2 linked regions of the Homo sapiens genome follow. The protein of the gene in region 2 interacts with the protein of the main gene of each other region in a pairwise test. Each region holds a gene or a part of one and is shown on either strand. Other genes may lie near its edges.

Evidence for each region. The genes of interacting proteins can lie anywhere in the genome.
Region 1: the proteins of GJC3 (region 2) and MS4A13 interact in binary tests that used the Homo sapiens proteins (3 or more experiments, as listed by UniProt).

Annotation. Positions count from the first base shown.
Region 1 is NC_000011.10:60,525,392-60,528,891, forward strand, and holds part of MS4A13 (membrane-spanning 4-domains subfamily A member 13), read left to right. Parts: intron 1-3,500. UniProt on the Homo sapiens protein: May be involved in signal transduction as a component of a multimeric receptor complex.
Region 2 is NC_000007.14:99,926,821-99,931,038, reverse strand, and holds the start of GJC3 (gap junction gamma-3 protein precursor), read left to right. Parts: upstream 1-1,418; coding exon 1,419-2,199; intron 2,200-4,218.

The sequences.
Region 1 (3,500 bases), on a different chromosome or scaffold from region 2:
TTAGGAGGTAAGATGAGGCTTTTATTCGTCCTCATGAAATTCTTTGATTTAGTTGTGAGCTCTTGATTGAAAATTTTAAATCAAAAATAATTCTAGGCTGTGAGTTTTAGTAAATATTAAGAGAATGTTTGAATTCTTGACTTGCTGAATTAAAGTGAGTAAAAATTTGAAAGCTTCAGTGGCAAGTGTCTATGTATTAGGCACAGAGCCACTTAATGATTCTCTTAATACAAGAAAAGTATAATCCTGGACAATAAAACCATTTTGCAAATAAACAAAAGAATTCTGCTACTGACACATATGGTTCAAATTGTAGACACCTAGTAATTTCTGGCTTAACATAGAATTTTTCATACATAGCCTATCTTTGCATCTTACATAAATTTTGCTTTAAGGCCAAAAATGCTAAATATAAATAAACCTAACTTGTTTCCATTTAGTTGCCCAGTAAATGTGAAGATTTTTACTGATAACACAATAGTTTTATTTTAATTATATTGGCTTTAAATTCAGAATCATAAAATATTAGTGGGGCAAAAGACCTTAGCAAAGTTAATACAAAATCTCACATTTAAAGTGAGGACAAATTGGAGTGAAACACCTTGTCTGACCAACAGAACAAAACAAATAACAATTTCAGTAATGAGTAGAAGCGTCATTACAGGTGAAGGATAAACTTCCTCCTCCTCCCCTACACACTTTCACTCCATACCTGTGACATATTATTAAGGGGGACATCAGAGGAAAGAACCCAAACCTGGAGAACAAAACCCTGGAGGACAGTGATACAATAATAGAAAAATGCACTAATACCCCAAAATATATTATCTGTAACAAGTGATTATGTAAACAAACATGGACCAGATTTTCCCTATAAATTATAAGAAAATTGTCCAGTTGCCCTGAACATTCAATCTAGAAATCTTTAGTTCTAATTTTGAGGGCAGAGAATAGGAAAGGAGGACTTAAGTTATTAAGTGCATAATTGTTTCAAGTTATATGTCACCATTCTTATTCATAAACTTTTAATTATCAGTTTAATATGGCATAATTGCCAAGGATTGCCTTTTGCAGTCAGTGTGACAAACTATTGTAGTCTGTATTTATCTGATCTGAACTCAATGATAACGACCAGTTTTATAGTCTCTCAAAATCACAAGTTCAGCACAAGTTTGCTGTGATTAGTTACACAAAATGAGCTTGTATATTAGACTTATATCTCAAAGCCACCATCTTTTTCTAGTGTCATTACAGAATTATATACTTACACTTGCTAAGGCAGCCAACATTTTACAGGACTTTTACATGCCAACTTTTCTCACATAAGCAAGGGGCTTGGCTAAATCTACAAAGTCATCAAGTTTTCAGTGTTCCCAGGCAGGGTCAGAAAAGTGCATGCATCTGAAATATACTCCTCATATAGCAAAATGGTTAATAGTATAGATTCCAGGATCAGAGTGCACTTATTTAAATACTATCCTCAGTACTCACTGTGTGTAAACCCCTGGAAAAGTTTCTTAACTTAACTGTTTCCAAGTTTTCTTTTGTGAGAAATGAAGAAAATGCCTGCTAGTTAACTGCTCTGTTCTTTCTTCCAAACTCCCGGCCTGTTGTTTTAAAAGCTAGTTTGACTTTTCTACTTGGCTATGTTTCTATCACTATTATATCAAACTCAACAGATATAAAATGGAAATTACTTACCTCCTCAGAAGTACTATACTGCAAGACTCCCTCGTTTCAATCTCCCACATACAAAACCTTGACATAATACCTCATCTCTTTCTACTGTCTTTATAATTACCAAATATTGCTTATTCTTCATTTAAGTATTTATTAATTAGGGTTATCTTGGTTTTAAGTAATAGGAAATACAACCCAAGTTGACTTAAGGCAAAAAGGGTCACTTACTTTACTTAAGCTGGGTCCAGAAGCTTACAGTTTACATCATCTGCCAGGAACTCATTCATTCCGTCTCTCTCTCTCTCTCTCTCTCTCTCTCTCTCTCTCTCTCTCTCTCTCTGTGTGTGTGTGTGTGTGTGTGTGTGTGTGTGTGTTTCCGTTTCCTCAGTTTTCATATTTGAGCTGCTCTGGCCAACCTTTTGCCGCTTTCAGTCAGGGAGGGAGTTTTAGAATAGCACTCTCATATAAATTAAAGAATATGGGGCCAGGCACGGTGGCTCACGCCTGTAATCCCAGCACTTTGGAAGGCCAAGGCAGGCGGATCACTTGAGATCAGATGTTCGAGACCAGCCTGGCCAACAAGGTGAAACCCTGTCTCCACTAAAAATACAAAAGTTAGCTGGGCATGGCGGTGGGCACCTGTAATCCCAGCTACTCCGGAGGCTAAGGCACGAGAATCGCTTGAACCCAGGAGGCAGAGGTTGCAGTGAGCCGAGATTGCGCCACTGCACTCCAGCCTGGGTGATAGAGCGAGACTCAGTCTCAAAATAAATTAAATTAAAAAATTAAAAAAAATAAGGAATATGGGTAAAATGACTTTTCACAGTCTTGTCAGCTAAGAGGTCCCAAGTACTTTCTAGCTAAAATGTTATGATTATGATTGTGCATTTCTGCCAACAAAAGTAAATCAAAATTATTTACCTTGGTATTTCAAACTTTCTACATCTTTTCCTTATCCTCCTGTTTATATCATATATGAATGAACACTGTAATTCAGTTAAAACCTGTTTTTCATTTTCTCAAAATGTTATATTGCTTACACTCAGTTTTGTTCTCACATTAAAAACCATAGGTTGTTCAAATATGTATTTTAGCTTTACTCTACTGGTTGTATTTTATGTCTCAATTTTTAAATTATTTTGTCACACTTTTAATTTATGCTATTAAACTCTTTCTGAAACAAGATAGGTTACAAGGAAACAAGCAAATAAAAATTTAAAGTTGCCTAGAATGCTGTTTCCTTCCTTCGTTTTTCTCAGTCCTACCCTTATTTCAAAGGTCCTACCACTTTATGAAGCCTTCCCAGAGAGTAATAGCTTGGAGTGAACCTCCTGTCCCTCCTGTCCCCTATAATGATTGAGCAAGTTTTTATCCATTTTTTATGGTACCTTATATTATCTTTCTGTCTCTTCTACTTCATTATAAACTCTAAGAAATCAGGAAGTTATGTGTCATTGCATTCCTATCATCTAATTCCTACTACCAGATAGTTTCTTGAATATAAAAGATATTAAATAAACCAAACAAAGAAGGAGGAGGAAGAGTTAGAGAAGGAATTGAAAGGGAGAGAATTATGATGTCATTCTTTCTAGTTCTGAGTATCATTCTTGTCTTTCCACAGCCAGCACAAAACCCACATTTTCAGGATGAGTACCAATATTATTCACATAACTAACCAATCGGATTTGTAGTTGAAAATATCTTTCTGATAGCAACAGAAGGGAATCTGTTTTATTTATCCCAGCAGTCACAATCACCTTATGCTTCCAAGTTAAATGTTCTTTGAACTCTTTTTGAATGTATTAATCATTTTAAATGAT
Region 2 (4,218 bases):
GTAACAATATGCTGGCATCACTACTCTTGCTTTTTGGGGCTATTCTTAAGTAAAATAAGAGTTACTTGAACGAGTATTGATAGTTGATCTGATAACCAAAATGGCGATTAAGTCACAAACCAGCAAGGAGCGTCTACAGCGTTGGATACCCTGGACAAAGGGATGATTCACATCCTGGGTGGGATGGTGTGAGATTTCATAGTGCTACTCAGAACAGCACACAATTTAAAACATTAATTTTGTATTTCTGGAATTTTCCATTTAATATTTTTGGACCTCTGTTGACTGTGGGTAACTGAAACTGTAGAAAGTGAAATCGCAGATAAGAGGGGGGACTACTGTATTAGGTTCTAGCATATGCATCTTGATCATCATTCAGACCATACCACATGGTCTTCTGAGTGTGAGGGTAACCAGATGAGTGAGAATTTAGGCTAAATGGGGACGGTTTGAAACAGCTGCTGGGCATTGGGGAAGGCAGCTGATTAGGACAAATATAGAGATGGTGAACTTGGGCTTGTAGCATTGTGGTATTTTGGCTGGGGAACAGAGGGATTTCTGAAACTTATCCTTGATCATGGTCGCCTGTCACCATGAGGGAGATAATATGCCCAAGGAACAATGGCAAGTGGGGGTCAAAAATCTGAATTTCTATCTAGTCAGTTCTGGCTCTGGCCCCAAATCCTATAGTATGTAATTCTGGTAAATTCTGCTGGGTTACCTTCCAAATGTTCTCTTCTTCCTCAGCTTGTAAGGCCTAAGAGCATCAGACTAAAGCAAGCCTCGATGCTTGCTCTGTTCATTTCATCCATCACATCTAGCCCCATAACCTAACTACCTCTCAACTTTACCACTGTGATGGGAGAAGAGGACATCCAGACACACCTGTGATCATCCAAGGGCATGGAGGAAGAGAAAAGAAGACCGCAAGAGAATGCACATTCCCTCTCAGCATCAGCACTAATTTGCTTAAGATGATGCTGTAGGAGCACCAGGCCTGGCAGCCATCAGCTGGGGAAGCAATACCTTTCAAAGGAAAATTAACAAAACATCCCAGTCTACTCTCTTACGTTCAGCCTTTGGGAAAGAGAGACGGAGGGAAGGAGGGAAAGAGAGAGATGAAGATGTATCCTGGTCTCTCCAACCTGAGAGTTCCTCTCCACTCCAGCAGTACAGAAGGGGAGGGCAGAAGAGAGAGCCACACCACACACACTCACTGTTATTATTTTACATAGATGATTTCATTAAGTAGTAAAGAGGTGCAATCAGAGTCTTGGTATTTAATCAGTCAGATACTTGGAGAGGAATAAAAAAGCTTGCCTTCAGTGATCCTTGGATTAGGAGTGACAAGGTGGACTGGAGCTCCCTCTGAAGGACAGTGAACAACACTGATCTCTTGTCCTCTGCTCCAAAACAGGATGTGTGGCAGGTTCCTGCGGCGGCTGCTGGCGGAGGAGAGCCGGCGCTCCACCCCCGTGGGGCGCCTCTTGCTTCCCGTGCTCCTGGGATTCCGCCTTGTGCTGCTGGCTGCCAGTGGGCCTGGAGTCTATGGTGATGAGCAGAGTGAATTCGTGTGTCACACCCAGCAGCCGGGCTGCAAGGCTGCCTGCTTCGATGCCTTCCACCCCCTCTCCCCGCTGCGTTTCTGGGTCTTCCAGGTCATCTTGGTGGCTGTACCCAGCGCCCTCTATATGGGTTTCACTCTGTATCACGTGATCTGGCACTGGGAATTATCAGGAAAGGGGAAGGAGGAGGAGACCCTGATCCAGGGACGGGAGGGCAACACAGATGTCCCAGGGGCTGGAAGCCTCAGGCTGCTCTGGGCTTATGTGGCTCAGCTGGGGGCTCGGCTTGTCCTGGAGGGGGCAGCCCTGGGGTTGCAGTACCACCTGTATGGGTTCCAGATGCCCAGCTCCTTTGCATGTCGCCGAGAACCTTGCCTTGGTAGTATAACCTGCAATCTGTCCCGCCCCTCTGAGAAGACCATTTTCCTAAAGACCATGTTTGGAGTCAGCGGTTTCTGTCTCTTGTTTACTTTTTTGGAGCTTGTGCTTCTGGGTTTGGGGAGATGGTGGAGGACCTGGAAGCACAAATCTTCCTCTTCTAAATACTTCCTAACTTCAGAGAGCACCAGAAGACACAAGAAAGCAACCGATAGCCTCCCAGTGGTGGAAACCAAAGAGCAATTTCAAGAAGCAGGTGAGAAGGACACGCTCTCTTCCTGTCACTGATGTTTGTGTCCTGATGATCTCCTCCCGGGGCAGGTCCCTCACCTTTCTGGGAAGTACAACTTCTGCATGTTACAAAGTAGGTAACCAGGTTCTAGGCAGATGTGTTCTGACCGCCACTCCCAACCCTTTTCTTTGTTCTCTCTTGCTCTCAAAATCTATCCCAATGTCCATCCCCATCAACTTGATGGTTCCTTCCAGCGAACAAGGACAAGAGTGCTAGTCCGTTGTCCCTCCTGAACTTCCATTTAGGTCTCTCTCCACTTAGGAAAAATCTCAGCTTCTTCTTGATTCTCTACTTTGCAGAGTTATAAAGACACCTGACTTGCCTGAAGGAAACTCTGTGATTGAATCTTCTTTCCAACATCCAGTGAGTGGGGATTCATGTCTGTGACAAATTAGAGGCTGTTGAAGGATCTCTAAGGGCCCCTTGGGCCATGTAGTCTAAAGCATTTCCTGACTGTGCCTTTTCACTGGAATTTTCTGGTGTCAGCATCACAATTTTTATGGGCTTGGTTCAAGAGTCAGCCGGGAGAAGCCTCCCTAAACTGTGTCTCTCCCCTGTCCTGCTCAATAAATATTGATGACTGCTGTTGGCATTCCTGTTGCTGAAGATAATGCCCCTTCCTGTCTCACTGGCTTCATTTACCTCTTTTCTGTTTTTCCACATTCTCTGCTCCCCTTATCATCAAAGTTTTGTAAATGAATGCCCCTCAGACCTGCAGCACATGTCATAAGCCAGAAACTCTGGGCTTCAAGCATATATAAGTCAGTGTCCTCTAATATCTATAGATTTATCCAAATACCCGGCCATATCCTTAAGGAAAATTACTGTGAATTCAGGGGCTTAGGCCCCCTTGATCACTGATAGCTCTGATTTCTGCTCAATTCTCATTCTTCATTTCTGCAGTTCTCGTTGCAGCTTGTTACAATTGTCTCCAGAACTGCAGCAACTCATGCTGGACCAAGTTCCTACTCTTTAATTTCATAACCCTCAATACCACACAGAAAAAGCAGTAGAGTTCTACTGCTGATATGCTGATTTGGGAGTAACAGCAAGGGAGGCTGACATCACAGTGTGATTCGGCGGGTAACTGCAATCTGAATATCAGTCTTCTCGAGTCTCTTAGTCATTTCTGTTGGACAGTGTTGTTCTATCCCTTTTTTTTTTTAACAGAACGCTGCCCTCTTTTCTTAGTTTTCTCTTGCCCTGAAATTCTCAACAAAGGCAGTTATCTATTTTTTTTTCTCTTTCTGAATCCCAAATTATCCCCAAGTAAGTTAGGGGATCCCAAGGGATGCTTTGGCAATAGCTAGGAAATTTTTTTTTTCTTCCTGCTACACAAGTGCTTCATAAGAATCCCTCATCCACTGTAGCCAGAGCCCAGCCAAAGTGACCAAGGAAAAACGCAAATAGCATCATTTGGAATTCTTCCTTATACCACCCCCTTTTAAAACAGCTTTATTGAGATATAATTCATACACCATATAATTTATCCACTTAAAGTGAGGCAGGAGAATAGGTTCTGGAGGAAGGGAACCTAAGGCTGTTTCACGCCAACTTCCTAGGACTAAATTGAAAGGAAAACTCTAACTTTCCTTGCCTAAGTAACACAAGGACCAGAGGCTACTCCCTTTGCAACACCCCCACCTTTTCTGTGCAGCAGATGGGAAATTGCCTGTCCCCAACAAATCAGGCTGTTTGCAGATGAGTCTTCCTTTGCAACTTCGTAACTTCTTCCTAGCCTCTGATTGGTTGCTTTCTGCAAAGCATGAACTGGCCAAAGGGAAACTTCTAGTGGGTACTGGGACCCAAGAAGATTGTGTATCCGTGCCCTTGAACCGCTGCTCGGATTGCTCCCACACTGTGGCGTGTACTTTGGTTTTCAATAAATCCCTGCTTTCGTTCTTTTGTTGCTTCATCCTTTCTTTGCTTTGCTAGGAGTTTTGTCCAATTCCTTGTTCAAAACGCCAAGAACCTGGACAACTT